2 separate regions of the Homo sapiens genome follow, and region 1 is linked to region 2. The links come from fine-mapping of genetic effects on gene expression. A gene starts in region 2. The other region holds a variant in brackets. All regions are shown on one strand. Distances are between the middles of the regions.

Region 1 (14,961 bases), 27 kb before region 2:
ATGTTAACATAATTTTCTAAAAGATGAAAGTGAAATAAATATCTTGAGGAAAGAGAACCTTTTTCTAAGGTACCCACAGGTGCCCTATGGGCTAACAGTGGCCCTGGGTGAAAGAGCTCCAAATGGCTGAGGGGAGGTTTAGGGATTGACACGCATAGTGGCCCTCCCAGGGCAGGCAACCTGACTGGAGGGAACAAAGGAGTCCCAGAGCACAGGCAGCTTAGGCACGTCCTTGATCCCCCAAACTCTGAGCTCACAGGCTACTCAGGGTCAAATAGATTAGCTACAGCCATGTCTTTCTGAATGCATTCTCTGTAGGTTTGTAGAGTTAAACATCTGTGCTCTTGGTTCTTTTTTCCAGAGGGAGATTCATTTTCCCAGTCCCTGGGACCCTCTCGATCTTACCAAGAACCAGGTCGAAGACTCCACCTCATTCGCCAGCATCCCGGCCATGCCCACTACCACCTCCCTGCTGCCTACCTGTTGGGCCCTTCCCGGAGTGCAGTGGCTCGGCCCCCACGACCTGGTCCCTTCCTGCCATCCCAGGAGCCAGGCATGGGCCCTCGGCATCACCGCTTCCCCAGAGCTGCACATCCCCGGGCTCCAGGAGAGCAGCAGCGCCTGGCAGGAGCCCAGCACCCCTATGCACAAGGCTGGGGACTGAGCCACCTCCAATCCACCTCACAGCACCCTGCTGCTTGCCCAGTGCCCCTACGCCGGGCCAGGCCCCCTGACAGCAGTGGATCTGGAGAAAGCTATTGCACAGAACGCAGTGGGTACCTGGCAGATGGGCCAGCCAGTGACTCCAGCTCAGGGCCCTGTCATGGCTCTTCCAGTGACTCTGTGGTCAACTGCACGGACATCAGCCTACAGGGGGTCCATGGCAGCAGTTCTACTTTCTGCAGCTCCCTAAGCAGTGACTTTGACCCCCTAGTGTACTGCAGCCCTAAAGGGGATCCCCAGCGAGTGGACATGCAGCCTAGTGTGACCTCTCGGCCTCGTTCCTTGGACTCGGTGGTGCCCACAGGGGAAACCCAGGTTTCCAGCCATGTCCACTACCACCGCCACCGGCACCACCACTACAAAAAGCGGTTCCAGTGGCATGGCAGGAAGCCTGGCCCAGAAACCGGAGTCCCCCAGTCCAGGCCTCCTATTCCTCGGACACAGCCCCAGCCAGAGCCACCTTCTCCTGATCAGCAAGTCACCAGATCCAACTCAGCAGCCCCTTCGGGGCGGCTCTCTAACCCACAGTGCCCCAGGGCCCTCCCTGAGCCAGCCCCTGGCCCAGTTGACGCCTCCAGCATCTGCCCCAGTACCAGCAGTCTGTTCAACTTGCAAAAATCCAGCCTCTCTGCCCGACACCCACAGAGGAAAAGGCGGGGGGGTCCCTCCGAGCCCACCCCTGGCTCTCGGCCCCAGGATGCAACTGTGCACCCAGCTTGCCAGATTTTTCCCCATTACACCCCCAGTGTGGCATATCCTTGGTCCCCAGAGGCACACCCCTTGATCTGTGGACCTCCAGGCCTGGACAAGAGGCTGCTACCAGAAACCCCAGGCCCCTGTTACTCAAATTCACAGCCAGTGTGGTTGTGCCTGACTCCTCGCCAGCCCCTGGAACCACATCCACCTGGGGAGGGGCCTTCTGAATGGAGTTCTGACACCGCAGAGGGCAGGCCATGCCCTTATCCGCACTGCCAGGTGCTGTCGGCCCAGCCTGGTGAGTTTTCAGAGGGAAGTGGGTGTGGTAGGGAGAGGAGACTACAGCTGAATATTTCAGGACAGGTGAAGTCAGCCAACAAAGGGTTGATGGAAGCTGAGAAGGATACAGCAGAGATGACAACCAAAATACTTAACCATCGGGACAGCGTATCATGCTGGCTAGAGTGCAGGAACACCCCACCTCTGCCAGGTGCTACCCCTTTAGTTGGCAGATCACAGGGAGGTCCCAGGGAGGTGCTGGTGTGGCTGAGGCATCAGAAAGGCACTTGGAAGGCCGGGTGTGATGGCTCATGCCTGTAATCCCAGAACTTTGGGAGGCCTAGGTGGGTGGATCCCTTGAGGCCAGGAGTTCAAGACCAACCTGGCCAACATGGTGAAACCCTATCTCTACTAAAAATACAAAAATTAGCCGGGTATGGTGGCGGGCACTTATAATCCCAGCTACTCAGGAGGCTGAGGCAGGAGAATCGCGTGAACCTAAGAGGCGGAAGTTGCAGTGAGCCAAGATGGCGCCACTGCACTCCAGCCTGGGTAACAGGGTGAGACTCCATCTCAAAAAAAAAAAAAAAAAAAAAAAAAGAGGCATTTGGAATGGTCCCCGGGGTAGTAGCTCAAACATAAGTGTTTCTAAATTTTAATAACTGGTTTAGTTCTACCAATGCTCACAGCTCAGTATTAGTTCTAAATACAAAGAAGGCTAAGAAGTGTTCCTCGGGGGGAGCTATAGTAGAAATAATTACACATAACCATAATACGAGGCTATATAAGAAGAGCTATGTGAACAACGAGAAAAAAGAGAGAGAGAGAAACCACAGGTGGTTCCCAGCAGCCCTGTGGAGCCTTAGGTTTTCTTCTCTTCCCCTGTGGTAAAAGAACAAGGAGGACTTCCCTTCAACACATCATTATTAATAAGACTGACCTTAATTTCTTGGGGATTCAGTGCATCCCTATATCATAAGCAGTGATCACGTAAATTCTCAACTTTAACATGGTGTTTACTTGCCCACATATCTCTCTTTTCCATTCAGGACCTTCCACCTTCTACTCTTCCCCATCTTCCCCCATTGTATGGATGACACAGTTCTTTGTCTACAGCCATCACTAGAACCCTTCCAACCCAGGAGGTGACACAAAGGTCCTGAAATATTCTTCAGTGTAGGAATTCTTCCTGCAGGACCTAGGAGCTGCCCTCATCCAATTCATTCATTTATTCATTTCCTTTCTCCTTCCTTCCTTTTTTTCCTTCTGACTATATGCCTGCTTTGTGCTAGGTTCCAGGCTAGGCTCTGAAGACATGGAACTTGCCAATCAGGACATCCAGGTCCATGGGGAGAGAGCCATGTACTGCAAGCTTTGGCTATGTGTTTGTGATTCCATTCGGACCCTATTGTGTGTGTACTTTGAGTGCTGCCAGTACCACACCACTATCTCCCTTTTCTCTCAAACTCAGAACTAGTTTCAGTGCCTCTCTTTTTCTTGCCTTTCACATCTAATCAGTGCCAGATTCTGTTAACTGTATCTTGGCTAGCTTTATCATGTTCTTTTCAAGTCCAGTACTGATGGCCCTGCCAGTGTCTTAGGTATACCCTAAAGATCCATGCAGGAGCCTCCTAGCTCTTCCCTTCCCTCTTACAGGGCCTCGAAGGCTGAGTGCTGCCCATCCAGTATGTCCCATAAAGTTGTGCACCACAGCTCCACTGCTCACCTACCCTCCCTATTGCTGCCAGCGTCATCTGCCTTACACTAAACTGTCCAGAAATCTTCAAATGTTCTGTTTGTCCACAGAGAGGAAAAATCCAACCTGCTTTGGCCTCAAAGGTTCCTGCACCAGCCAGCCCCCATCTTCCTTCTCAACCTTATTTTCTATTCTCTTCCCTCCCTTCCCCAGGCCCATGCTTTAGCCAAACTGGGTAAACAATTCTTGTAGTTCCTGTAGCCCAGAATATTCTCCTGCCTTCTCTATTCCCATAAATCTAATTCTTACCTATTCCTACAGAATCAGCTCATTTATCCCCACTTCCAGGAAGCTTTTCCTGATTGCTGCACTTGGACCTGGTCTCTCTCCTTCCTTAATGCATCTCTCGTGACTCCTGTCCTGTCCCACTGGCGTAATGGCCATTTGTTTTCATACTTTCTCTCCAAAAAGGTTACCAGGTCCCTGCTTATTCTTTTTGGTCTTCTATTTGGCACGTGGTAGCAGACCAAATTCACAACGAATCCTTAATATTTATTGGGTGAATAAATGAATAGTAAGTATTGGTAACACACTGGTTGCTATATATATTTCTTTAGATTTGTTTTTCTCTCCCCTGTGTCCCAACTGGGGCCCCCTTAGCTTTCAATCTAACCACCCTTTCCAGACAGTCTCTGCTTCTCCCTCCCTGTGGTCCCCTCTCAGCCACACTCTGCTGCAGGCGAGAGAAGCAGGTCCCTGGCCTGACCCTCAATGACCTCTTTCCTCCCCGCTCTCTAAATACAGGCTCAGAGGAGGAACTCGAGGAGCTGTGTGAACAGGCTGTGTGAGATGTTCAGGCCTAGCTCCAACCAAGAGTGTGCTCCAGATGTGTTTGGGCCCTACCTGGCACAGAGTCCTGCTCCTGGGAAAGGAAAGGACCACAGCAAACACCATTCTTTTTGCCGTACTTCCTAGAAGCACTGGAAGAGGACTGGTGATGGTGGAGGGTGAGAGGGTGCCGTTTCCTGCTCCAGCTCCAGACCTTGTCTGCAGAAAACATCTGCAGTGCAGCAAATCCATGTCCAGCCAGGCAACCAGCTGCTGCCTGTGGCGTGTGTGGGCTGGATCCCTTGAAGGCTGAGTTTTTGAGGGCAGAAAGCTAGCTATGGGTAGCCAGGTGTTACAAAGGTGCTGCTCCTTCTCCAACCCCTACTTGGTTTCCCTCACCCCAAGCCTCATGTTCATACCAGCCAGTGGGTTCAGCAGAACGCATGACACCTTATCACCTCCCTCCTTGGGTGAGCTCTGAACACCAGCTTTGGCCCCTCCACAGTAAGGCTGCTACATCAGGGGCAACCCTGGCTCTATCATTTTCCTTTTTTGCCAAAAGGACCAGTAGCATAGGTGAGCCCTGAGCACTAAAAGGAGGGGTCCCTGAAGCTTTCCCACTATAGTGTGGAGTTCTGTCCCTGAGGTGGGTACAGCAGCCTTGGTTCCTCTGGGGGTTGAGAATAAGAATAGTGGGGAGGGAAAAACTCCTCCTTGAAGATTTCCTGTCTCAGAGTCCCAGAGAGGTAGAAAGGAGGAATTTCTGCTGGACTT[T/C]ATCTGGGCAGAGGAAGGATGGAATGAAGGTAGAAAAGGCAGAATTACAGCTGAGCGGGGACAACAAAGAGTTCTTCTCTGGGAAAAGTTTTGTCTTAGAGCAAGGATGGAAAATGGGGACAACAAAGGAAAAGCAAAGTGTGACCCTTGGGTTTGGACAGCCCAGAGGCCCAGCTCCCCAGTATAAGCCATACAGGCCAGGGACCCACAGGAGAGTGGATTAGAGCACAAGTCTGGCCTCACTGAGTGGACAAGAGCTGATGGGCCTCATCAGGGTGACATTCACCCCAGGGCAGCCTGACCACTCTTGGCCCCTCAGGCATTATCCCATTTGGAATGTGAATGTGGTGGCAAAGTGGGCAGAGGACCCCACCTGGGAACCTTTTTCCCTCAGTTAGTGGGGAGACTAGCACCTAGGTACCCACATGGGTATTTATATCTGAACCAGACAGACGCTTGAATCAGGCACTATGTTAAGAAATATATTTATTTGCTAATATATTTATCCACAAATGTGGTCTGGTCTTGTGGTTTTGTTCTGTCGTGACTGTCACTCAGGGTAACAACGTCATCTCTTTCTACATCAAGAGAAGTAAATTATTTATGTTATCAGAGGCTAGGCTCCGATTCATGAAAGGATAGGGTAGAGTAGAGGGCTTGGCAATAAGAACTGGTTTGTAAGCCCCTAAAAGTGTGGCTTAGTGAGATCAGGGAAGGAGAAAGCATGACTGGATTCTTACTGTGCTTCAGTCATTATTATTATACTGTTCACTTCACACATTATCATACTTCAGTGACTCAGACCTTGGGCAAATACTCTGTGCCTCGCTTTTTCAGTCCATAAAATGGGCCTACTTAATAGTTGTTGCAGGACTTACATGAGATAATAGAGTGTAGAAAATATGTTCCAAAGTGGAAAGTTTTATTCAGTGATAGAAAACATCCAAACCTGTCACAGAGCCCATCTGAACACAGCATGGGACCGCCAACAAGAAGAAAGCCCGCCCGGAAGCAGCTCAATCAGGAGGCTGGGCTGGAATGACAGCGCAGCGGGGCCTGAAACTATTTATATCCCAAAGCTCCTCTCAGATAAACACAAATGACTGCGTTCTGCCTGCACTCGGGCTATTGCGAGGACAGAGAGCTGGTGCTCCATTGGCGTGAAGTCTCCAGGGCCAGAAGGGGCCTTTGTCGCTTCCTCACAAGGCACAAGTTCCCCTTCTGCTTCCCCGAGAAAGGTTTGGTAGGGGTGGTGGTTTAGTGCCTATAGAACAAGGCATTTCGCTTCCTAGACGGTGAAATGAAAGGGAAAAAAAGGACACCTAATCTCCTACAAATGGTCTTTAGTAAAGGAACCGTGTCTAAGCGCTAAGAACTGCGCAAAGTATAAATTATCAGCCGGAACGAGCAAACAGACGGAGTTTTAAAAGATAAATACGCATTTTTTTCCGCCGTAGCTCCCAGGCCAGCATTCCTGTGGGAAGCAAGTGGAAACCCTATAGCGCTCTCGCAGTTAGGAAGGAGGGGTGGGGCTGTCCCTGGATTTCTTCTCGGTCTCTGCAGAGACAATCCAGAGGGAGACAGTGGATTCACTGCCCCCAATGCTTCTAAAACGGGGAGACAAAACAAAAAAAAACAAACTTCGGGTTACCATCGGGGAACAGGACCGACGCCCAGGGCCACCAGCCCAGATCAAACAGCCCGCGTCTCGGCGCTGCGGCTCAGCCCGACACACTCCCGCGCAAGCGCAGCCGCCCCCCCGCCCCGGGGGCCCGCTGACTACCCCACACAGCCTCCGCCGCGCCCTCGGCGGGCTCAGGTGGCTGCGACGCGCTCCGGCCCAGGTGGCGGCCGGCCGCCCAGCCTCCCCGCCTGCTGGCGGGAGAAACCATCTCCTCTGGCGGGGGTAGGGGCGGAGCTGGCGTCCGCCCACACCGGAAGAGGAAGTCTAAGCGCCGGAAGTGGTGGGCATTCTGGGTAACGAGCTATTTACTTCCTGCGGGTGCACAGGCTGTGGTCGTCTATCTCCCTGTTGTTCTTCCCATCGGCGAAGATGGCCCTGGAGACGGTGCCGAAGGACCTGCGGCATCTGCGGGCCTGTTTGCTGTGTTCGCTGGTCAAGGTGTCAGTCGGGGACCTGGTTGTAGGGCCCATGGGGGACCAAGGTCGGGGAAAGAGGGCGGAATGGGGCTGTGGGACAGTAAAGAGAAAAGTTAAGTCTCAGAACTCAGAGGTGGCAGGGGGAGTGAGAAGCCGAAGGAGGCCATCGTTTACCTCGTAGGATCGCGGACAGGTCTTGCAGCTGAGGGCAGGGGCGGTCTTACATGCCTTTGAATCCTCAGCTCTTAGACGTTCGGTGAACTTACGTTGGAGCCGAAAGACACTGGGAGTCAGAGGCGGGTGGGGATCCGCTGCTGAGTGAGTAGTCGGAAAGGATGCCTGACCCTGAGTAGACTAGAGAAAGGAATAGATAAAACGGAATTGGGAACGAGAGAGGAAGGAGTGGGAGGGTGGGACTTAGGAATGAAGCTTTGAGAGTAGTAGGTGGGGAACCTTAGGATACACAGTCAACATAGGGAAACAAGAAATTGAGCAGGTCGAAGTATTGAGAAAGCTACTTTTTCTCTTGGTCTTGTTCATGCTTATCTCTCCTTTTCCTTTATTTTTCTTTCACTCCCAGACTATAGACCAGTTTGAATATGATGGTTGTGACAATTGTGATGCATATCTACAAATGAAGGGTAACCGAGAGATGGTATATGACTGCACTAGCTCTTCCTTTGATGGGTAAGCCGCTTCAGTTTCCATCATTCACTTCTGCATTACCCAACCTGCACCCAGAGAAGTAAATGCAGGGCAAGTGTTAATCCTAGTTGGGCCCAGCCATTCGTTTTTGGGGGTTATTTTGTGTGGGTTTTTTTTTTTTTTTTTTTTTTTGAATCAGGGTTTTGCTCTGTGGCTCAGGCTGGAGTGCAGTGGCATGATCATAGCTCACTGCAGCGTGGAATGATCCTCTGACTTCAACCTCCCAGAGTGCTGGGATTATAGGTGTAAGCCACTGTGTCCAGCCTCAACAGTTATTTTGGGACATACTAGTGCTATGCATCTAATACAGTGACCACTATCCACGTGTAGCTACTGAGCACTTGAAATGTGTCTAGTCCAAATTAAGACATGCTTTTAAGTATAAAATATACCCCAGATTTCAAAGACTTAACATGAGAAGAAAGAATGTAATCTTAATAATGTTTGTTAAATGCATGAAAATTTTTTTTGAAAATGAAGGGAAGGGAGGTGTAGTAATGGTAGATCATTGCCCAAAAGCTGTTGCTTTTTTTTTTTTTTTTTTTTTGGACAGACTTTTCGCCCTTGCCACTCATGCTGGAGTGCAATGGTGCAGTCTCGGCTCACTGCAACCTCTGCCTCCTGGGTTCAAGCAATTCTCCTGCCTCAGCCTCTTGAGTAGCTGGGATTACAGGCACCCACCACCACTCCCAGCTAATTTTTATATCTTTAGTAGAGACGGGGTTTCACCATGTTGGCCAGGCTGGTCTCAAACTCCTGACCTCAGGTGATCTGCCCACCTCGGCCTCTCATAGTGCTGGGATTACAAGTATGAGTCACCATGCCCGGCCCATTTTAGCCATTTTACTTATTTATTTATTTATTTATTTATTTGAGATGGAGTCTCGCTCTGTCGCCCAGGCTGGAGTGCAGTGGCGCAATCTCGGCTCACTGCAACCTCCGCCTCCCAGGTTCAAGCAGTTCTCTGCCTCAGCCTCCTGAGTAGCTGGGATTACAGGCACCTGCCACCATACCCAGCTAATTTTTGTATTTTTAGTAGAGACGGGGTTTCACCATGTTGGTCAGACTGGTCTTGAACTGCTGACCTCGTGATCCACCCGCCTCGGCCTCCCAAAGTGCTGGGATTACAGGAGTGAGCCACAGCGCCCGGCTGCAATGGCACGATCTCAGCTCACTGCAACCTCCGCCTCCTACCTCAGCCTCCTGAGTAGCTGGGATTACAGGCGCCCACCACCACGCCCAGCTAATTTTTGTACTTTTTTTAGTAGAGACAGGGTTTTGCCATGCTGGCCAGGCTGGTCTCGAACTCCTGACCTCAGGTGATCCTCCCGTCTCAGCCTCACAAAGTGCTGGGATTACAGGCATGAGCCACTGTGCCCGGTCGCCATTTCTAAATACACAATTCAGTGGCATTAGTGCATACTCACTGTTGTGCAACCGTCACCACCATCCATCTCCAGAACTTTTTTCATCTGTACCCATTAAACACTAGCTCCTCGTTCTCTCCTCCCTCCTGTCCCTGACAACCACCATGCTTTGTCTCTATGAATTTGGCCACCTTAGGCACCCTTAGGTACCTATGGGCTCATTCAGTAGCATTTTTTAGCTTCTTTCACCAACATAATGTCTTCAAGGTTCATTCATATTGTAGTATGCAACAGAATTTCCCTCCTCTTTTGAGCTGAATAATATTCCCTTGTATGTGTATAGCATGTTCTGCTGCCCATTCATTCATCAATGATATCTTGGGTTGTTTCTCCCTTTTGGCTATTTGTGAATAATACTGCTGTGAACATTGGTATACAAATATGTGTTCAAGTCCCTGCTTTTCATTATTTTCAGTACAGATGCACCTCAACTTCCGAGGAGTTACAACCTAATAAGCCCATCATAAGTTGAAAATATAAGCCAAAAGTGCATTTAACACACCCAACCTACTGAATATAATAAGTTAGCCTACTTCAAATGTGCTCAGAACGCTTATGTTACTGTGGCTGACCAGAAGCTGTGGCTCATGGCTGCTGCGCAGCATCATGACAGAATATTGTACTGAATTGCTAGCCTGGAAAAGAACAAAATTTAAAATTTGAAAACGATTTCTATTGAATGCATGTCACTTTTGCAAAATCATAAATTTGAAAAATCATAAGTTGAACTAAGGTAAGTCAGGGATCATCTGTATATCCACAAGTGAAATTGCTAGATCATATGATAGTTCAGTGTTTAATTTTTTGAGGAACTGTCATACTGTTTAGCAACTGCACCATTTTCCATTCCCACCAACAGTGCCCAAAGGTTCTAATTTCTCCCCATCCTCACCAACACTTAATTATTTATTAATAATAGCCATCCTGATGGGTGTGACTTTGGTGTCCCATTTCCCCCAATGAATGGTGATGTTGAGCCTCTTAGGTGCTTATAGCCATTTGTATATCTTTGGAGAAATGCCTATTCAAGGCCTTTGCTCATTTTTGACTTCAGTTTGGTTTTTTTGTTGTTAGGTTGTAGGAATTATTTGTATAATTCTAGTGCATATTAGGTCTTAAAGAGTGGGCAAATTAAAGATCGGAAGAGGGCTAGATGACCTCAACCAGAATTGGAAGAGGTAGTACTTTCCTCTTAAGGCAAGAAGTTTGGGATTTTTGAGGAAGTTGAGGTGAGAGAGAGAGAGAACATTCCAAATAAAGGGAGTGACTAGAGCAAAGGCTTAGGATGGGAAAAACCAGGATGTTTTTGGAGAACAGTGGGAATTCTGTTTAGGTTAAATCATAAGGTTGGGCTGTAGGGACCCTAAGGCTAAAAAGATAGATTGCAAAGGACAGAGAAGAATATACTTGTGGTCAGGAGGATGGCCTGCATACATGCCTATCTCCCATCAGGCTGCAGGGCTGGGGGCTAGTGTTCTGCTTGTCACCCCTGGAGGTAGGGTCGGTTCCACTTAACAGCGCATGGCTGAGAATGTAGGATTTGGATGGGAAGGGAATCTTCTCAAATAAGAATCCAAGATTGTTACTGAGAGAAGAGGGGAGGCATATTGAGGCAGTCAACAAATGTCAGTGCTTACACCCACACAATAGGCAGTCAGTAAGCATTTGATTGAATGCGTTGAATGACAAAAATGCTTACCCATCTTGCTCAAGCAGCATCTTCTAGCCCTTGAATAGCCTTACCATTCCTCTGGAATCACAGCTACCTGGGAAGGACTATTAGGATAATGAGGAGAGCTAATGCTTATTTAGCACCTACTCTGTGCTAGTCTTTGTGCTAGGTGTTTTTCATGTATTATCTCAACCTTTGAGTCTCAGCTTACTGATGAGGTTCTGAGAAGGGAACCCCACATGTATAGGTCATTAGAGGGGTCCCCATATGTATAGGTCATTAAGAGGAAAAGTTTAGCCAAGTTGAACTCCTTTCTAGTAGGAGGATCCGTTGTTTTCACTCACCCTCCTCTTTGCACTAGGCCCTAGACCCCTTGTAGTTGTGTTAGTTGTAACTATTGGACCCCTTGTCCTAAAGCCGTCTCATTTTCTAGGGAATGTTAGGCTAAGGATGTTTGTGAGCTGAGTGAGATAATCTTTTGGGGATGGAAACTGACCTGTGGCTGGCCGGCCAAGGACATAAGAATGAAGAACTTTTGTCAGTCCTAGCTTTGAGTCAGCCTCATCCCAACATCAGAAGGCAGTTTTGCCAGCTTTCCAGTGGAGACTCGGTACTTGGCTTTTTCCTAGATTCCTCTCTCAGAATTGAGCTCAGGCCCAGGGAGGCTCAGGCTGACTCTCCATTTCTTTTCCCTCCCTAGAATCATTGCGATGATGAGTCCAGAGGACAGCTGGGTCTCCAAGTGGCAGCGAGTCAGTAAGTGTTGGCCTGTCTCCTTTTGGCTTAGTTGTAGTGTTGTTACTGTTCCTCAGGTCCATTAGGGAGTCTCAAATCAGCAAGATGAGTGACCTCAGGGTGGGAAAGATCGGGTTGTAGGAAACACAGGGAAGCAGTGTCCTGTGCCTTGTCATTTAACACTTGTAGCCAAAAGAGGGAATAGCTCTTCTCTTGGAGTTGCATCACTTCTTTAGCTTAAGCTTCCATTTGATCTTGAGTCTTAACTAACTTCACTGTAATCTTGTATCTTTTTTCTTCTCTCTCAGGTAACTTTAAGCCAGGTGTATATGCGGTGTCAGTCACTGGTCGCCTGCCCCAAGGTAATAATAATCATAACAGCCAATGTTCATTTACTGTAAAGCTCTGTGGAAGTTTTTTTATCTGAATTAATGCCAATTCTCACATTCTATGAGGTTCAGCATTTTACAGATGGGGGGAACCAGGCACAGAGAGGTTAAATCACTTGCTGGAGGTCACCAGGTAGTAAATGAGGAGCCAGGATTGGAATCCAGGCATTCTGGCTCCAGAATTTTTGCTGTTTCTGTTTTTTATTTTTTTTAGAGACAAGGTCTCACTATGTTGCCCAGGCTGGACTCTAACTCCTGGGCTCATGTGCTCCTCCCACCTCTGCCTCCTGAGTAGCTGGGACTACAGGTGCTTGGCTTAGAACCTTTGCTTTTGATGACTACATGTATCCCTCTTTTTCTTCTCATTCTTACCGAATACCTGCCTGGGTCTTCACTAGTAATGAGTCAACTAAGCAGGACCTTTTTTTTTTTTTTTTTTTTTGAGACAGAGTCTCTGTCACCCAGGCTGAAGTATAGTGGCATTATCAGAGCTCACTGCAGCCTTGAACTCATGGATTCAAGGGATCCTCCCGCCTCAGCCTCCCAAATAGCTGGCACTACAGGTGCAAGCCACTACACCTGGCTAATTTTTAAAATTTTTTTGTAGAGATGGGGCCTTGCTCTGTAGCCCAGGCTAGTCTTGAACTCCTGACCTCAAGTGATCCACCTTGACCTCCCAAAGTGCTGAGATTGCAGGCATGAGCCACCGTGCCTGGCCAAGCAGACGATTGATAAGTAGTCTAGGAACTCCAGTTTGCTTATAGTACCCCCCTCAAGGTGGCAGCTGAGTGGCCTATCTTACCCTTCTGAATCTTACCTCACAGAACTGTTTCTTTTCCTGCTTCAGGAATCGTGCGGGAGCTGAAAAGTCGAGGAGTGGCCTACAAATCCAGAGACACAGCTATAAAGACCTAGCAAGATGCAAGGCTGCCAGCATCTTTGCTCTCCACCTCCTGCCTCTGCTTATTTCTTGTTCTGGAACTAAATGAACAGAACTTCAAATACTTCCTACCCTCCAATTCAGACTCAGCTGACTGTTGAGAGAGCAGCACATCATTTTATCATTTTATCTTCTTTGGACTACAGGTGGGGTGGGAGGGATTTGGGTTGGTGGATTAACAGATGGAATTGAGGAGAGAGTAGGATGCTGATTTTCCTACCCGTGGCCCAGGTCTGTGCCTTCCCCATGCCAAGGACTCTAGGTCAAATGTCAATAAATATGAACCTCGAGAAAGTTCTGAAGGCCATGACACCTGCCTTGCCTCCCTCTTCCATTCTCTTAGGCACAGTAATAGCTTATTTGCCCTATAAGAACCTTCCCAGAGCAGCAGAGGCCCTTCTACTCCCTCTTGACTGTCTCAGCCTCTGGGATTGCAGCCTTTGTAGTGTGCTTCCTTGCTTCCTATCGGAGGGTGCTGATCCAGAGGCTCAGTAACCCCATCAACTTGGTGGCCCTGGTGTCTCACACTTGTATCCTTCTGCCCTCGAGACCTGGCACAGCAGTATCCCTTGAAGAAATCCTGAGGCTTTGTAGAGTGCTCCTTGACCATGTTTAATAATTCTTCCCTCCCCTGCTTGTCTATTTTCTTCTCTTCACGGCTCTTCCTATACCTTAGGCCAGTCTCAAGCACTCACTGGAGACCCTTGGGCCTTGGGCGACCATTGAGTCCTAGTCTCCCTTGTTTGTGCCCCTGTAGGAGGTAGGTCCTTTTCTCCTCCGGCCTAGTAGGGGACCTTGGGTAACATCCCATTTTTCGGCCAAGGTGAGTTGTTTTAGGATAAAAAAATTTACCACAAATTCTCATTTAAATTTCCACAGAAATCCTGTTCGTATCCCCATTTTGATTTCCCTAAGTTCCTTGTTCTCCCTCTAAAAAGAGAATGATTGCACCCTGCCTGTTTACCTCAGGATTGTTGTGATTGTAGAAACGAAGCTATGTGAAAATTATATAAGTATTATAAAGGTGAAATACTTTTGCTCTCCTTTTTGGGCCATTTTTCAATACATAGAATATGTGCACAATCAGCCAAAATAGTAGGGGAAATGCTGAGAACCACAACTGCAGGGTGAGCTGTGCTGTGCTAGGGCAGAGCTGCCTGTGCTAGGGCTTTGTGTCTCAGCCACCTGGTGTTGCTCTTGAGTTGATTTTGCTTGTTACCTGTGGCCTGGAGAGTGTGGGAAGGAGGAGAGATGCGACCTGACTCTGATTAGTTTGTCTACTCCCCTTCCTTGTCCTCACATAGGCCTATGGGAGGGAAACTGGGACTGGCCGGGCTGCTCATGTCCACTATGGTCTTCAAACCAAAACCATTTTCTCTGGTGCCTTCAAGCTCTGAGGGAATGGTCAGATAACCCCAACTCCAAACTGAGTTTCTCAAGGATTTCCCCAGCCCAGCAAACAGAAAGCTCCGTGGGTGGTGATTTCTGTTCAATTTCAACCTGAAAGCAACCCTGCCAGGCTAGAGCTTACGTCCTGGATGGAAGAAGTGCGTTTCAGCAAGTGCCCAGGCTGTGCAGCCAACACCCAACTTTCACTAGCTTCTCAAAAAGTCCCTTGGAAAGCCCCAGCTGCTGTCCTGGGTGTCTGACCCGGACGTGGCTGCTTGGTGAGAATGGAAACAGTTGTGGGGAGGGGAGGCAAGAGGAGCTTGCACAAATAACCACATTCAGGCTGCCTCAGCCCTACACTGAACTGGGCCCTAACTGACAGTCTCACAGGAAGCAAAAGACATAGCATAGGCATTGATGCTTGTGGGGGAAGGGTGGCCTGTTTTCCTTCCTGGACTCTACAGACTGTGCCAAGTGGGCTCTCCCCGGGAGCTGCTGCTGAATTAGCTTTCTTGCTTTCTCTGGTACTTGAACATGCAGGTGGTGCCACTCAGCAACCCAGACAGGCAGAAAGGTGCTGGAGTCCCATCCTCTACTGGGAACCCAAA
Region 2 (15,345 bases):
CCCCAGGCGGGGAAAGAGGTGTCCAAGGAGGAGGGCTGGAGAGTAAGGCGGGGATGGCAGAGGGTACGCAGAGGCTGAGAAGTGGGACCAGTGTCTCAAGGGGCGCCAGCCTCTTCCTCCGCCCAACATGGCCACCATTTTTGTTGGGATAGCCTTGGGCTCCTGCCAGGGGAACAGCAGGGCAGTGAGGGAGTCAGGACTTTGGGCTGGTGGGGAGGCCGAGAATCAAGGCTCTGGGGAGTCAGGACTTTGGGGCTGGTGGAGTGGCTGGGGACTGAGGCCCTGGGGGGTCAGGACCTTGGGCTGCTATGGAGGCTGGGACTGAGGCTCTGGGGGAGTCAGGACCTTGAGCTGGTGGGGAGGCTGGGAATTGAGGCCCTGGTGTGTTCAAGACCTTGGGCTGGTGGGGAGGCCAGGGCCTGAGGCCCTGGGGGGTCAGGACCCTGGGCTGTTGGGGAGGCTGGGGACTTAGGCCCTGGGGGGTCAGGATCTTGGGCTGGTGGGGAGGCTGAAGGGTGGGGACTGAGGCTCTGGGCAGTCAGGACCTCACGGTTGGGGTGGACTGGAGACCAAGACCTTGGCAGGGGAGCTGTGGCTGCCTCATTTGGACGCTGGAGGGTGGCTAGCGTGGCTGGAAGCGGCCAGCCAGGGGTTCACAGAACTGAAGGTGAGGCCTCCAGAGGCCCTAGTCTCTACCTGAGTGTCTCTGAAACTGGGGGGATGGGGTGGAGCCTTTAGGGGGAAGGGAAGAGGGAACTGAAGAGGAAGTGGGGGAGGGAGGTAGAGGAGGCAAGTCTGGCGCCATGCTGAGTCACCGCCCACAAGGCCCAGGGCGGGCCCTCGGGGGGCCCTGGCAGGGTTGGGGGGATCTTAGGAAGCCACAAGGAGGGCTGGGGGGCTCTTGGAGCAGGAGTCAGGAGGCCTGGGCAGCCTGAAGAGTACACGCCGACGGACAGACAGACAGTGCAGTCACCCATAAAGTAGAAAGCACTACTAACAGCACTGGAGGGTGTAGTGTTTCCTACTTTATGGATGAGTGTACTGTGGGCTTCGGAGATCACGCCACTGCTGCCGCCCGCTGCCCGCCACCATCTTCCTCGGCGCTCGGGGACCTCGTGTGACAGGTGAGCACCTTACGGCCCCTCCCTACCCTGCCCAGATGCCTGAAAGGCCTCCATGGCTTTCCTGCCCTTCCTGGTTCCGGACAGCTGGGGAAAGGCCACAGCAGCTCCTCTGCTGCCCTGCAGTCTTTGGGGGCGGGGAGGGCTGGACATGTGGAACCCTGATGCAGCCGCAGCGTCAAGGACGAGGAAGGGGTGGGAAGGGATGGTACGTGGAGGGGAATGGGTGGTGGGACCAGGGACCCAATGCTAATAAAGACTGGACTGTGCTTCTCTTTTGTCTGAGACTCTGTTGCTGGGGTGGGGAGCTGAATGCGGGCGGCAGGCACATGGACAGTATGGGCGCACAGAAGGGCTGGGAGGGAGAACCTCTGTCGCTCCTCCAGAAGATACGGGTTTGGCCCTGCCTATGAGATCAGAAGAGGGCTCTGGGCCTGGCCAGGCCACAGCCGGAGGAGAGAAGGGCCTGGGCCATCTGCAGAAAGGGGCAGGGATGTAAGGCATCCTCTCACCTTCTACCCTAGCTCTGGCCCTATCCTGCCCCCCTACATACCCAAACTGAAAGCTGCCTACATCCAGTTTTAATCTAAGAAAGTCTAGGGGGTCCTAGGTCATATAAAAATTGGGCAAAATCCACTGTGGCACATACACAGCATCTTAGACAAGGGCACAGACACTCATATACAAAGCACACACTGAGATGCAAATGCATTTACACACAGAGGCCCCATTCAGTGTGCCAGTAACACACACACAGACACATGTGACATGACTGGCATGACACACACAGGGATTACACACACCCAGGGCACATACATATTCAGTAGTACACACATGCAATGATAGAAACATAGGGCGTGTCTTACACATAGAAGAGCACACACATACAGTGACATTTGCATAATAAACACGGTGGCTCCATACACATACATAGATAGAGACATGTTCATATATCATGATAAATATAGAATACATAGATACATGGTGATATATATATATAAATCAAACCATGTCATTATGCATATTTACATGACGATATGAGCATGTCATATATTGTGTAATCAATTACTACATTGTGCCATATAGTAGCATCCATATCTATATATATCATGATGTGTTGTAATTTATAAACTCATGCAATGATAGCCTCCCATGCACATAACAGCACACACATAGACACAGTGGCAAACAAACATAGATGCAATGACACAGAAACATACATACAGATACACCCAATGTGTTTTTGTTACGTTTTATTATGTGACTCATAGACACATAATAGCACACACATATATACACACAATGGCCCCTTCACATATACAGAAATAGATAATGTCTATTCTATAGATGCATACTATACACACGCATGCGCATAATGGCATGCATATATACTCTGACCTAAACAGCAACACATCATGCAGTGGCGTGCGTGTTGACCTACACACTGCTTTAGGGAAGTGAAGATGTCCACTCCTCCCCATGCACCCCCTACCTCCAGTTCCATTGGCTCTTGCCTGGGTGGAGCCCACAGTCAGGGGCTCTAGGGTTCAGTATCACCGCTGCTATTCTGTGGGGGTGCCACACGAGGGCCCCCGACCTTGGCTGAAACTGGCTTGCCTAATGAGTCCCGGGTTCAGAGTGGAGAGGGGCTGCCTCTCGGGGCTTCTCCCAACACCCCTGGCTCTGGGGACTCTGTCTAGACCCCTGCCACTGCATATAGACTGACTCCTGGCTGAGGGGATTCTCACGTCCTTGTCCCCCAAATTATTTAGCAACAAGATCTAAGGCTAGACAGAAGATGAACTTCCAGGCAATTCGGGACAAAGCCAACCCAACAGGCCATGTGGGCTTCCCTGGTGGCCTGGGACAGCCAGGTTGCCCCCCAAGTGCAATCTGCCAGGAGGAAGCAGAAGGAATTCTCCGTCTATTTCTACCTGTCTCTTTGCTTGTCTTCCCGGTTTCTTTCTCTTGGTTTCTGTCTCTCTCTTTGTTTCATCTCAAGTCCCATCTTTTCTAGTTCTGCCCTTCTCTGTGGCTGGATCTCTGTCATACCCTCCCCCGTTCTGTCTCTATCAGTCTCACCCGATGTAGGGAGGACCATCTGCACCCCACTCGCCTCTGTACTCCGGAAGGTGTGAGAATGTGTGAAGATGAGGGTGGGAGGCCACATGTGGGAGCCCTGGGCTGACATGCCGTGAGAAACCTGCTCTTCCTTCTGTCCCCGACCCTGTCAGCCGGTTCAGCCCACCAGTCCAGCGCCATCACCATGGAAACCAGCAGCCGACTTCCTATTGGTGGGTGGGAGGGGAGGAGGAGGAGGAGGAGGGGAGGGCTGGCTCTTCCCGGCTCACCCCCCCACCCAATTCTGAGGCTCAGCCCTCCTCGGAGCCCACCATCTCGAGGCTCCTGGACTGTAAGGGACCCCTGCAGTCCCCAGAGCAGAGGCCAGCAGGGGCTGAGACTATGAGGCAAGCAGCCCATCGACCCAGGCCTCCTTAGGACCAGCCCAGCCACCCAGCAAGCGAAAGAGCAGCAGCAGAGAGCAGAGCCGGAGATAAAGGACCACAGCGGACCACTGGGGATCACCCCCAGCAGCTCCTGAAGCCTCTGGCCGGGCTGAGGGGTTGCGACAGACGGCCAGACCCACAGACACTGACAGACACACAACGACACCGATGCACACAGCTGCACGACACTGACACACTCAGATACAACCAGGGACAGCATCACATACTGCCACAGCCCTGCAATACAGACACCCACACACACACACACAAACAACTGGCAACTCTGAAATGGGCAGACAGTGACACACAGCACCACCCCCCTCAACACACAGAAGTGGGGGCACCCATCTTCCCAACACATGAGACAGCATTGACCTGCACGGACAGACCTGGAGACACACACACGCACCCTCACCCAGGCGCAGCTGTCGGTGGCCTCTGCACATCCTCCCTACCCCCACAGGGACACCCTCGCTCCTCCACATACTCGCGCACACACACAGCTACCAGCAAACATAGCTCACATACCCCTGGCTCCAGCTCCAGCAGCCCTGGCGCCTTCTGCAGCCTCCTTTGTGGGTGGGGAAGAGCTCAGCCAACCTTGGATGGAGCGTCGGTGAAGCAAGAGCTCAGAGGGGAGAGGGGCTGGCCTGGCATGACCCTCGCCAGTCCCCCCACCTGGCTGGGTGATGTCCCCCGGCCCGGGTTCTGGGGCCCCTTGGCAGTACCATGGAGCAACTGACAACCCTCCCACGGCCTGGGGACCCTGGAGCCATGGAGCCATGGGCACTGCCCACCTGGCATAGCTGGACTCCAGGTCGAGGGGGTGAACCTAGCAGTGCAGCCCCAAGCATCGCTGATACTCCTCCGGCAGCTCTGCAGCTTCAAGAACTGAGGTCTGAGGAGAGTTCCAAGCCCAAAGGAGACGGGAGCTCCAGGCCCGTGGGGGGAACTGACCCTGAAGGAGCAGAGGCTTGTCTGCCCAGCCTGGGCCAGCAAGCATCCAGCTCTGGACCCGCCTGCCAGAGGCCAGAGGATGAGGAAGTGGAGGCTTTCCTGAAGGTAAGGGATCTGTGGAGGGCTGGGGTCTGCAAGGTGGGGGTCTCTCACCATGTCCTCCAGCCTGGCCAGGAGGTGAGGCGAGGTATGCATCCCCAATGCCCACCTGTCCTCTCTTGGCCTGTCTGTGGGTCCATCTCTGTGGCTATCTGTCCTCTCTTCATCGAGCAGAAATCTGAGGGGCTCCATTTCTTTCGTCATTTGTCTGTCCTTCTGACCCTCTTTGCCTGTCTGTCTAGATCTGGCCCTGCTGCTGCCCCGTCCCTCTCTGTGCCTCCTCCTGACAGTGTGTCTGTCTGTGTCTCTTCTTCCATGAGTCTGTCTGTCCTTAGGGGCTGGGGGATACAGGGGGAGTGTGGAGGTGCACAGAGAATCAGTGCAGAGGAAGTAGATTGAGGGGAGGGGGCTTGGTGCTGGGCTGAGGCAGGGTTGGGGTGGGTGTGAGCAGGCTCCTGTAGAAGAGGGAAGGAACAGGACTTTGGGGGAGGGCAGGGGAGTCTGGAGGGATGGGAGTGGGAGCTCGAGCTCGCATGTCCCTGGAGGAGAAGATGGGTAGGAATGGGAAGGATCAGGGAGGAGCAGGAGGGTGCCAGGTTTGGGGGTGTCTATGTGGACAGGGAGGACTGGACAGTTCCTTCTCCTAGGCCTCCTCTGCTCCTCTCTGAAGGCCTGGGACATAGGGGAAACCGTTTCATCTCCATGTCTCCTTGGACCATGGATGGTGGATGCTTCCACAGGGAAGGCTCTGGCTGGGTGACGTGGGTTTCTGAGGTGCTGTCCTCGGTCCTTTCCCATGCCAGGCCAAGCTGAATATGAGCTTTGGGGACAGGCCCAATCTGGAGCTGCTGAGGGCCCTGGGGGAGCTGCGGCAGCGCTGTGCCATCCTTAAGGAGGAAAACCAGATGCTGGTGAGGCTTGGAGACTGGGGTGCTGCGTTCTGGCTGGAGCCAGGCCCTCTGCCTCAGTGCCCTCCTCACCCCATGAACATCTTTCCAAGTGGGGGCTCAATGGAGGTGACAAAATCCTGAGACCCAGAGAGGGTGAACCCCTGCCTAGAGTTGCCAAGGACCCCACTGTGAGCCTAGGGCTCTAGCCCAAGACTTGGGCTGTTAGGACTGGGTCTGTGGGGTGCTCCCTACATGCCCCAATTCTGCCTGACCCCTTGTCAGAGGAAGAGCAGCTTCCCTGAGACAGAAGAGAAGGTGCGGAGGCTGAAGAGGAAGAACGCCGAGCTGGCGGTCATTGCCAAGCGCCTGGAGGAGAGGGCCCGAAAGCTGCAGGAAACGAACCTGAGGGTGGTGAGGAAAGGAGGCTGCTGGGCGGAGGCTGGGTGACCAAGGAAGAGGGGAGCCAGGGCTGGGCCTGAGGGCTGTCTGAAGCTTGGGAGTCACGGTCTCAGCTCAGCACCTAGGAAAGCAAGAATCTAGGGGCTAAGGTGCAGGAAGGGCAGAGGCTGGCCAGGCAAGGAGGCCAAAGGTTTCTGGAGCTGCAGGGGGCAGAGAAGAGCTGGATGGGGAGGTTCCTGAGCAGGCAGGGAGCAGGATTCTGGATTACCACGTGCTGGTGCTGGCGGCAGCCTTCTGCTGAGCTCATCTCAGGGTATAGAGCTGGAGTGGGGGCAGGGATGAGACCCATCACAGTGGCAGCCCCAAATTAGCAGCATCCTTTGATCCTAAACTCAGATGTAGAGTTAATCCTTTCCAACTGCTGGGATGGGGTAGAGTGAGGCTGCTGGTTTTCTGAGACCCCAGTCAAGGTGGAAGCAGGTGGCTACCCCCCTAGGTTTTCATGCTAACTCCTCCTTTGGGAGGAGATGAGGAGTGGGAGAAGTGCCCCAGCCCTCAGGTGACCATTGGCCTTACCCCTCCTCTGGCTAGGTGAGTGCCCCCTTGCCCCGGCCGGGGACCAGCTTGGAGTTGTGTCGGAAGGCCCTAGCCCGCCAGCGAGCCCGGGACCTCAGTGAGACAGCCAGTGCACTGCTGGCCAAGGACAAGCAGATTGCTGCCTTGCAGCGGGAGTGCAGGGAGCTGCAGGCCAGGCTCACTCTGGTGGGCAAGGTGCGAGGAGGCCCTGGTCACCTCTTCCAGCTCAGCCCTGCACAGGGCCATCTGCCTGTTGTGGGATGCAGACAAGATGTTAATGAGACGCAAATGAAAGGGAGGGTGGAGGTTGCTGGGAGTAGGTTCCCCTGGCAACGGCCCAGGTGGGAGAGGGGAGAAGGGGGTGGAGCCATGAGTCCCAGACCTGGGCATTTCTGTGCTCCAGGCTTGAGGCTGTTTGCCGGTGGGTCTGGCTGTATGCATCCACACATCCCCTGTGTGAAGGGATGTTCACAAGGTATTTAGCACAGTGCTGGGCACATTGAGAGCACCCAAGAAATAAGTTACTGAGAATGACCGCATAGGGGCTCGCGGGAGCATGTGGCCACATACGCATGCACATGTAACCAGGCATGTACCCATGGGAGGGTGTGCACAGTCTCGCGCATCGGAGCCCCTCCAGCAAGGCGAAGGGCTCTGCAGGGGATGGCATGGGGCGGGCAAGGATTAGGCCTGAGTCCCCTCCCTGTCCCTGTCCCCCAACCTCAGGAGGGTCCCCAGTGGCTCCACGTGCGGGACTTCGATCGGCTGCTGCGCGAGTCCCAGCGGGAGGTGCTGCGGCTGCAGAGGCAGATCGCGCTGCGCAACCAGCGGGAGACGCTCCCGCTCCCGCCGTCCTGGCCCCCGGGCCCTGCTCTCCAGGCCAGAGCAGGGGCGCCTGCTCCCGGGGCCCCGGGAGAGGTGAGCGCCGGCGCAAGGGCAGGTGTGTGGGTGCGTGCAGATGGGTGGGGGGAACGACCACCGGGATCTCCCCTGCACCGTGCTCAGAACCCCAAGGACTCAGTGGTGGTGTGCGCACTCCCAGGGGCTGGGGAGCTTTCCCGTCCTGGGCAGGGTCCACCTCCAAGCCTCCCGTGCTCGTACCTGCGCCGTGCCCTCCCCTGGGGGCTCCAGGGTTCCGCCCTCCATAGGCCTGCGCCCAGCGGGGCCTGGCCGGCCGCCCCTGCCGCGCTGCCAGTGGTACGGCCCGGCCGCAAATCCCTGGTTGTCCTGGCAGCCGCCCGGGGCCCAGCCCGCGCCGCCTCCTCCCGCCGCCGCCGTAGAGCGGGGACGCCCCCGTCAGCGCCCGCCTGGCTGGCCAGGCCTGGCCCCAGCTACCCGGGGGCGGCGGTGCGTCCGCCCCGGCTCCAGGTACAGGCAACCCTCACTGAGCGGGGGGCTTAGGCAGCCCCTGTCTCGAGGGCCAGGGACCCGCTTAGGACCCCCAGAACTTAAGGGTCTGGCTTCTCGCCATCATCCTAGGTAGGCAGCAAGTAGGTCCTCCTCCTTCTGGGAAGAGGGCTGGGAGGAGAGACCAGGCAGTGATCTGATAGTGACCAAGACCTCCGGGTGGGGGGAGGCTTCTTGCTCAGATTTTGTCTCCCTGGCTGGCCCTGGAAGGGAGATGCACCCTCCCATCAAGACCTGTCCTCCCCCAAAGTTTGCACGGATAATCGGAAGGTGTGGTAGGGTGGGCTTGGGGGAAGCCAGGAGAAGGGTCTGGCTGGACTTGCGCTGCTCTAGGCCAAGCCCAGATTTGGATGATACAGAACCCCTATCTTGGGGAACACCACATCCCCGGGGGCCCAGGCAGCCTCCTAGTTCTCTGCCAGTCGCTGAAGGACACCCAGGACAGTTATTGAGTGCAGAGCAGGGCTGCTGCTGGAAGCTAAAAAGGGAAAGCTTTGGCCTGGATAAAGGACCCATCTCCCAGGGCACACGTGGGTCCCAGGATCTCAAAGCACTTATGGCTCCAGGACACAGGGGTGCAGCCTTTGTACTTACACATCAGCTGGAGACAATGGGAGGTGGGTGGGCAGACAGTACCCCTCTTTGCTCTTGCTAGGCAGGGATCTCTTGCTGGCTGAATGATGGGGTGGGAACCTGCTCTGGGCAGGCTGGGCTGGGGCAGGCTGCCCTGGGGCCCTGTTCTCAGGTGCCAGCCCCTTGCCCCTGGGCATTTCCAGGCCACGCCCCAGGAGGATGCGGACAACCTACCCGTGATTCTAGGGGAGCCAGAGAAAGAGCAGAGGGTGCAGCAGCTGGTAAGTCCTAGGTCAAGGGCTGGAGGCAGCCTGCTGTGGGCAGATGTACCTTCCCTCATGAGGAGCACTTGGTTCTGACCCCTCAGGAATCGGAGCTCAGCAAGAAGCGGAAGAAATGCGAGAGCCTGGAGCAGGAAGCCCGGAAAAAGCAGAGGCGATGTGAGGAGCTGGTGAGCTCTTGAGGGCAACCCAGAGGCCAGCTCCTCCCTTCACCCCGGCCAGCCAGGTGGTGGGCTCCCTCTCAGCTCTGCTCCCACCCCTGCTGCCCTCAAGAACACATTTTCCCTCCTGCTCCTTTCCTTTCCTGGCTGGTGCAGGTTCCAGCAGGGGAGGAAGGCCTTGCCTGGGAGGAGGGCAGGGTCCTCTGTGTGGGGAGAGGGGGAATGTGGGTGCTGGGCTCCCTCCTGAGAGCTCCTCTGCCCGCTCAGGAACTGCAGCTGAGACAAGCGCAGAATGAGAATGCCCGCCTGGTGGAGGAGAACTCCCGGCTCAGTGGGAGAGCCACAGAGAAGGAGCAGGTACCACTTCCGCCCAGGTGCTGTGGAGACCTGTGCTCCCACCACTGCCCCGGTCCCCAGCCAAGGGGCTTTCTCCTCCACCCCTGAGCAGGGGTAGGGTACTGTTCCCCCTGTGAGGGTGCTGGTGGGTCAAGGCTCACCCACCCAACTCCCTGTCACTGCCCCCTCGCCAGGTGGAGTGGGAGAATGCGGAGCTGAGGGGCCAGCTCCTGGGGGTGACACAGGAGAGGGACTCAGCCCTTCGCAAGAGCCAGGGCCTGCAGAGCAAGCTGGAGAGCCTGGAGCAAGTGCTGAAGGTGAGGAGATGGTGCAGGTGGGAGAGGGTGCTGGGCCCTGGCATGGGGAGCAAGTGGGACAGCAGAATATTCTTAGTGAGGGGCACTAGCTCTGAGGCCTGGGCCTGGAGCTGCTCCAGGCTCAGTTTCCTTTGTAATAGAGGAATCTGGAGCAAATGGTGTTTGAGGCTTCCTCATCTTAGATCTTCTCTAGAAATGGCCAAGTAGGGGCTCTGGCCTTGACTCAGATCTTGTGTTTCAGCACATGCGGGAGGTGGCCCAGCGGCGGCAGCAGCTGGAGGTGGAGCATGAACAGGCTCGGCTCAGCCTACGGGAGAAGCAGGAGGAGGTCCGGAGACTGCAGCAGGTGGGGCGGCAGTGAGGGAAGCTGGCAGGCTGCTGGACACCAGCTTTGCCACTCACTCATTCCACAAGCATTTACTGTGTGCCCGGCACTGTGCTAGGCGTCGGGGAGACTGTGGGGAACAAAGACCAGGTCCCTGAGCAGTCAGCAAATTAGCATCCAGGAGTGAGCTGATTTCAGACACTGATGAGCACAGTGGTGGAGAAGAACAGGGTGATGTGACAAAGTGACTGGGATGGGGTGAGGAGCCACTTTAGAGGTCATCAGGGAAGGCCTCCCTGAGGAGGTGACAATTGACCTTGCCAGCCAGGAGGTGTAGACATGCACATGCTCTGTGGCAGGGAAGAGCTGAAGAAGCCTGAGACCAATGTGGCTAGAATACAGCAAGGGATGGGCAGCGTGGTGGGAGTAGACAAGAACCCGATCCTGTCGGGCCTTAACGGCCATGGGAAGAGTTTGGGTATTTTGCTCTGTGAGTAGATAGAAGCTCCTGAAAGATCCTAAGTGGGGGAGTGACATGATCTGAGTCATAATTTTACAGGATCACATGGCTGGTATTATGGAGGGTGGACTGTGGGAGCAGGCGTGGAGCAGGGCCTGGGCGGTGGCCTGGGAGGGAGATGGTGGCTGTCTGGACAGAGATGCATGCAGTGGAACGGGAGACAAGTGCCTGGGTTTGAGTTATGTTTTAGAGATAGAACTGACAAGGTTCTGGCCGGGCATGGTGGCTCATGCCTGTCATCCCAGCACTTTGGGAGGCCAAGGTGGGTGGATCAGTTGAGGTCAGGAGTTCGAGGCCAGCCTGGCCAATATGGTGAATCCCCGTCTCTACCAAAAATACAAAAATTAACCTGACATGGTGGCGGGCCCCTGTAGTCCCAGCTACTCAGGAGGCTGAGGCAGGAGAATTGTTTGAACCCGGGAGGCAGAGCTTGCAGTGAGCTGAGATCGTACCATTGCACTCCAGCCTGGGCGACAGAGCGAGACTCCATCTCAAAAAAAAAAAAAAAGAATTGACAAGGATCCCCGTGGGATTCCAGTTGAATCCCTTCTCTGACAGCCATTTGCTGTATAAACCTTGGTGGAGGGTGGGGCTCTTCATACTCCGTGAGGTGAAGGATGAAGGGGCAGCAGATCTGAGAGGTAGGTCATCCCGAGTGCTGAGTTCCATTTGGGCCATGTCTGAGCTGCGCGTTAAACATTCAAGGGGAGCTGTCCACAGGCACTTGGATACATGAGCCTGGGGTTATGGGTAAGTTGGTCTTGGAGATATTTGGAGCCACCAGTGTGTTTAGTTGTATGAGTAGATGGGAGCCCTAGGAAGAGAGTAGACAATATAAACTGGGCCCAGCACTGGGTCCAGGGTAACCCTAACATTCAAAATGGGGGACAGGGAGCAGGCAAAAGAGGCTGAGAAGGAGCATCCAGAGAGGTAGGGGGGAAACTGGGAGGATGGTTGCTCAGGAAAGAGGGGAGCTGACTCAGCCACGCTTCTCCTGGTCCCCTTTGCCTTCTGGTCTAAGGTATGGTTCAGGGTGGGTGTTCAGGAGGGAGAAACCCTTCGGCCTCCCCCTTCCCTATCCCTCTTCCCTCTCTCCCTACCCTTTTCTTTCTCCCGGCTTCTTCCTCCCCTGCCTCTGTCCTTTCTACCCTTCCTCCCTCGCAGCCCTCTCTACTCCACCCCATTCCTTCTCCTTCCCTCCAGTATTTTGGTTCCCCCCACCTGTAGGCCCAGGCTGAAGCCCAGAGGGAACATGAAGGAGCCGTGCAGCTGCTGGAGGTAGGGCGCCTGGAAGTGGCCCCCAGTTCCACCATCTTGGGAGGAAGGCGGGGGTCCTCCAGATAGAGCTGAAATGGACTATGGCGGTGGGGAGAGGGGTTGCAGGAGGGGCCCTTAAATGCTCCAGGACCTGGGGGAGTCCCCTCCACCACTGGCCTATTTCTCAGGGTGGGCACGGCTGGGCAGGGGGCTCCCAAGTCTGGTGGCAGCAGTCTCCCATTGCTGCCACCCCCAGAGGCTGCCTTCACCCTGAGATATCCTTCCATTTAGGAACTGCTAGTCAGTCCAGGGAGCTGACTGGATGATATCCACTTAGGCCCCCTTCTCCGCCTCCCTCTCTGGGTTAGCAACCCACAGCGCTCAGGGTTCTAACCTGTTCTCTGCTTCCTTTCCTGCAACAGTCTACCTTGGATTCCATGCAGGTAGCGCCTCGTTCTCCACTTCCCCACACCTCTCCAGGCTGGCTGAGTTGCATCTCCTCCCTCAGGGCCCAGGCAGTCCCCCTCTCTCATCCAGCAGAGGGGGTGTCACTGGGAGCAGGCATGAGAATCCATAGGGGGTGGAGTTCCCACAGGACACGTGCGGCTGTCCCCTTGTCCCAGGCCTGCCGCCGTGTCTGTCAGACACTGGGCCTCCCCTCTCTAGCCACCCTGATCATGAGGAAGTTCATCACCAGTCTAACTTAGGAGCCTCGCCATAGTGGCCGGAGAGAGCCCCTGCTATTGGGACTCTCCTCAGACCTGAGAAAACTTCCCGGGCATTGGCCCATTCCCATCACGAAGACATCCCTGGCTCCCCTGTGGAATTTCCTGCCCGCCTCTCTCAGGGAACGGGTTTGAGTTGCTGATTGTGGGAGGGTGATGAGCAGTGGAGCTGAGAAAACTCCTGCGGTGATGGTGGTGATGATGGGGTGGGAATGATCCCTGTTGGCCTAGAAAGCAGCCAGAGGCAGAGGTGCCATCGCCTAGGGCCTGAGGGTTGGTGAGTGTGTGGCAGGCCCCGGCCTTGGCTCTGGAGGGGGCTGGGGTGAAGATGTCCCAGGACACAGCCCAGGACTTCACCCTCCGCTCTGATGCATTAAGGACAGTGGGGTGGCCAAGGCAAGGCTGGTGCCCAGGCCTGGGGCTGGGTGGATGGATATGACCTGAAACCCAGTGTAGGGCTGTGTACAGATGGCACGGGCTGGCACTGGGTAGCTTTGAGGGGCCTGGCGGCTCATGGTGGGTCTTGGCCCAGGCCCGGGTTCGAGAGCTCGAAGAACAGTGCCGCAGCCAAACCGAGCAGTTCAGCCTCCTGGCACAGGAACTCCAGGCTTTCCGCCTGCACCCGGGCCCCTTGGATCTGCTCACATCTGCCCTGGACTGTGGGAGCCTTGGAGACTGCCCACCACCCCCCTGCTGCTGCTCCATTCCCCAGCCTTGCCGGGGGTCTGGCCCCAAAGGTAAGGTGGACCCCAGTGGCATTGGCCTGGAATCCCCAGGCCTGGGCTTTTGGATAGAGCAGGGAGTTCAGGATCAGAGAAGGCCAGCAACTCATCCAAAGTCACACAGCAGGTTAGAGCTGTGCCTGGCTAGAACCACGTTCTGTTGGGGAAAAATAAAGCCCAGGGGAGTGACTGTCCCAGAGTCTGGCCCAGGCATCGTGGGCCACTGCTCCTCTCCTTCCAAAAGGACCTGAATGGTCAGACCTAGGGGTTGGGCACTAGGAGTCAGTAGCAGGCAGTGTGGCCTTGTGCAGAGTGGGGGCTTGGGGGTCAGTCGGATCCGGTGGTCCCAGCTCCACTCACTTGACAGTCACTGTGATTTGAGAATGCTGCTTAACCTCTCTGGGCCATAGTTTCGTAAGCTGTAAGACAGGAATAATTAAATGCATCTCATCAAGCTGTTTTGACGATCATGTGAAATAGTATTTGTAAATCAGCTATACCTCTATTTAGTAAGTTTCTCTCTAAATATTTCCCTTTTTGTAAGGAAGCCCGGCTATGGAGGGCCTGGTCCCCATATCCAAGAAGCACCACCCTATCTCCTGGTCCCTCCTCAGGCCACAGACCCCAAGCCCACGTGCCATCTTCTCTTTAGACCTTGACCTCCCGCCGGGCTCCCCTGGGCGCTGCACCCCAAAGTCTTCCGAGCCTGCCCCTGCCACTCTCACTGGGGTCCCTCGAAGGACAGCCAAGAAGGCAGAGTCTCTCTCCAACTCCTCCCACTCCGAGTCCATCCACAACAGCCCCAAGTCATGCCCTACACCTGAGGTAATTGCTGGGGTGGGGCCTGAAGTTCTGGCTTTGGCTTGGGGAAGGGTGCAGGGCAGGTGGCCCTGACCTCTTCTGGGGTCCCCAGGAGTTGGGTGGCAACTTCTGGGGTCCCAAGTTGGGAGGTGGGAGGCCTGTGGATTCCTCCTGTGGGCGAGGCGCTCAGGTGGAGCCCTTCCTGCCCTCCACTGCCTGCCTGCAAGCCCCACCTGGGGCCACCCCAGCCCACCCCTGGGAGGCCCAGGGAGGCTCTGGAGTGCTGGGCTGGATGGAGGAGACACTTGGGCACCAGGATCTGCATAATGAGACTGTTCCTAAGAGCATCTGTAGTGAAAGCAGGTGGTTGTATGAGAAAGCACATGTTCCAGGATTCAAATCCCAGCTTTGCCTTAGGCAAGTCACTGAGCCTTTCTGGGCTTCTGTTTCCTTATCTGAATCTTGGAGCTAATAAAACCTGCCTTCTAAGGTTGTTGTGAGAGTTAAATGAATACGGAACCTGCCTGTCTCAGTGTGGGGCACACAGGATGTGTGCTCAACACGGGGCAGCTGTTATTATTACTAAGCTCCTGGGCATCACTCATAGCTCTGGTCGTCAACTCATCCTTCTTTCTACCCACAAACCCCAGAAGGTGGAGGAGGCAGGTCAGAAGCAGCTCTGAGAGCCAAACATTCAGAAAGTGGTAGAACGAAGCCCTGGGCCTCTATTGCCCCCTCGTGGGATAGAAGGATGGTGCCAGCTTTGGATGTGGTTGTGGAGAGGTTGCCCACTTGGTCCCCTTCTCCCAGGCATTGGCAGAGAAGAGAAGACAGCCTGTTCCCCAGGCTACCCCAGCAACCTCAACAAGGGTCAGAGAATTGGGGTGCCCTGAGGTTGCGGTGCCCTGGGCTGTGGGCCGGGCAAGTAGACGGGAAGTTCTGAGTTCCAGAGCTGAACAGCAGACACACTGTCACTCGGCTAGAAGCAGGGACCCCTCAAGCTCCTTCTGCCTCCTTTCTGCCTCCTTGCTTCCAGCGATTTACAGTTGGGGTGCTTTGCTGAGGGGTTTCTTTTTTCTTTGTTTTTGTTTGTTTGTTTGTTTGTTTTTAGACAGGGCCTCGCTCTATCCCCCAGGCTGCAGTGCAGTGGCGCAATCTCAGCTCACTGCAACCTCTGCCTCCTGGGCTCAAGCAATCCTCCTACCTCCGCCTCCCAAGTAGCTGGGACCACAGGCATGCACCACCACACCCAGCTAATTTTTGTATTTTTAGTAGAGATGGGGTTTTGTTATGCTTCTCACGCTGGTCTCAAACTCCTGGCTCAAGCAATCTGCCCTCCTCAGCCTCTCAAAGTGCTGGAATTATAGGCGC

Which allele goes with the higher level. Alleles are on the strand shown, and positions count from the first base shown. SD is a standard deviation of normalised expression in the study named.
For the expression in pancreas of the gene that starts at base 3,483 in region 2, allele C in region 1 goes with a higher level than allele T (small effect, 0.16 SD a copy in GTEx).

Evidence for each region. PIP is the estimated chance that this variant, and not a neighbour inherited with it, causes the effect.
Region 1: its variant is fine-mapped to the expression of TSPOAP1 in pancreas (GTEx, PIP above 0.99). The same link has a PIP of 0.9 or more in lung and prostate.

What each region holds. Positions count from the first base shown.
Region 1 is chr17:58,344,224-58,359,184 of GRCh38, reverse strand. SUPT4H1 (SPT4 homolog, DSIF elongation factor subunit) reads left to right here and starts at 6,984. Exons shown (of 5, transcript NM_003168.3): 1 at 6,984-7,118; 2 at 7,677-7,783; 3 at 11,601-11,656; 4 at 11,944-11,997; 5 at 12,872-14,007. The coding sequence starts at 7,050. The coding sequence ends at 12,939. It overlaps RNF43 (ring finger protein 43), which reads left to right. Exons shown (of 10, transcript NM_017763.6): 9 at 362-1,717; 10 at 4,199-5,509. The coding sequence ends at 4,242. TSPOAP1-AS1 (TSPOAP1, SUPT4H1 and RNF43 antisense RNA 1) reads right to left here. Exons shown (of 5, transcript NR_038410.1): 4 at 7,271-7,441; 5 at 5,458-7,186. RefSeq lists enhancers at 5,668-6,203, 14,438-14,961 and silencers at 6,591-7,020, 7,301-7,410. The variant T/C (reference allele first, on the strand shown) is at 4,997.
Region 2 is chr17:58,316,933-58,332,277 of GRCh38, reverse strand. TSPOAP1 (TSPO associated protein 1) reads left to right here and starts at 3,483. Exons shown (of 32, transcript NM_004758.4): 1 at 3,483-4,690; 2 at 5,488-5,595; 3 at 5,857-5,985; 4 at 6,565-6,744; 5 at 7,276-7,467; 6 at 8,733-8,810; 7 at 8,897-8,980; 8 at 9,239-9,328; 9 at 9,502-9,624; 10 at 9,866-9,970; 11 at 11,697-11,747; 12 at 12,149-12,169; 13 at 12,984-13,188; 14 at 13,826-13,998. The coding sequence starts at 4,358. It overlaps TSPOAP1-AS1 (TSPOAP1, SUPT4H1 and RNF43 antisense RNA 1), which reads right to left and starts at 6,828. Exons shown (of 5, transcript NR_038410.1): 1 at 6,550-6,828; 2 at 4,157-4,228. It overlaps MIR142HG (MIR142 host genes), which reads left to right. Exons shown (of 1, transcript NR_186557.1): 1 at 1-1,390. MIR142 (microRNA 142) reads left to right here and starts at 960; the gene lies at 960-1,046. RefSeq lists enhancers at 731-870, 2,661-2,740, 2,841-3,010, 3,541-3,610, 4,481-4,640 and 1 more and silencers at 4,321-4,430, 5,041-5,100, 7,361-7,450, 7,491-7,560, 7,681-7,930.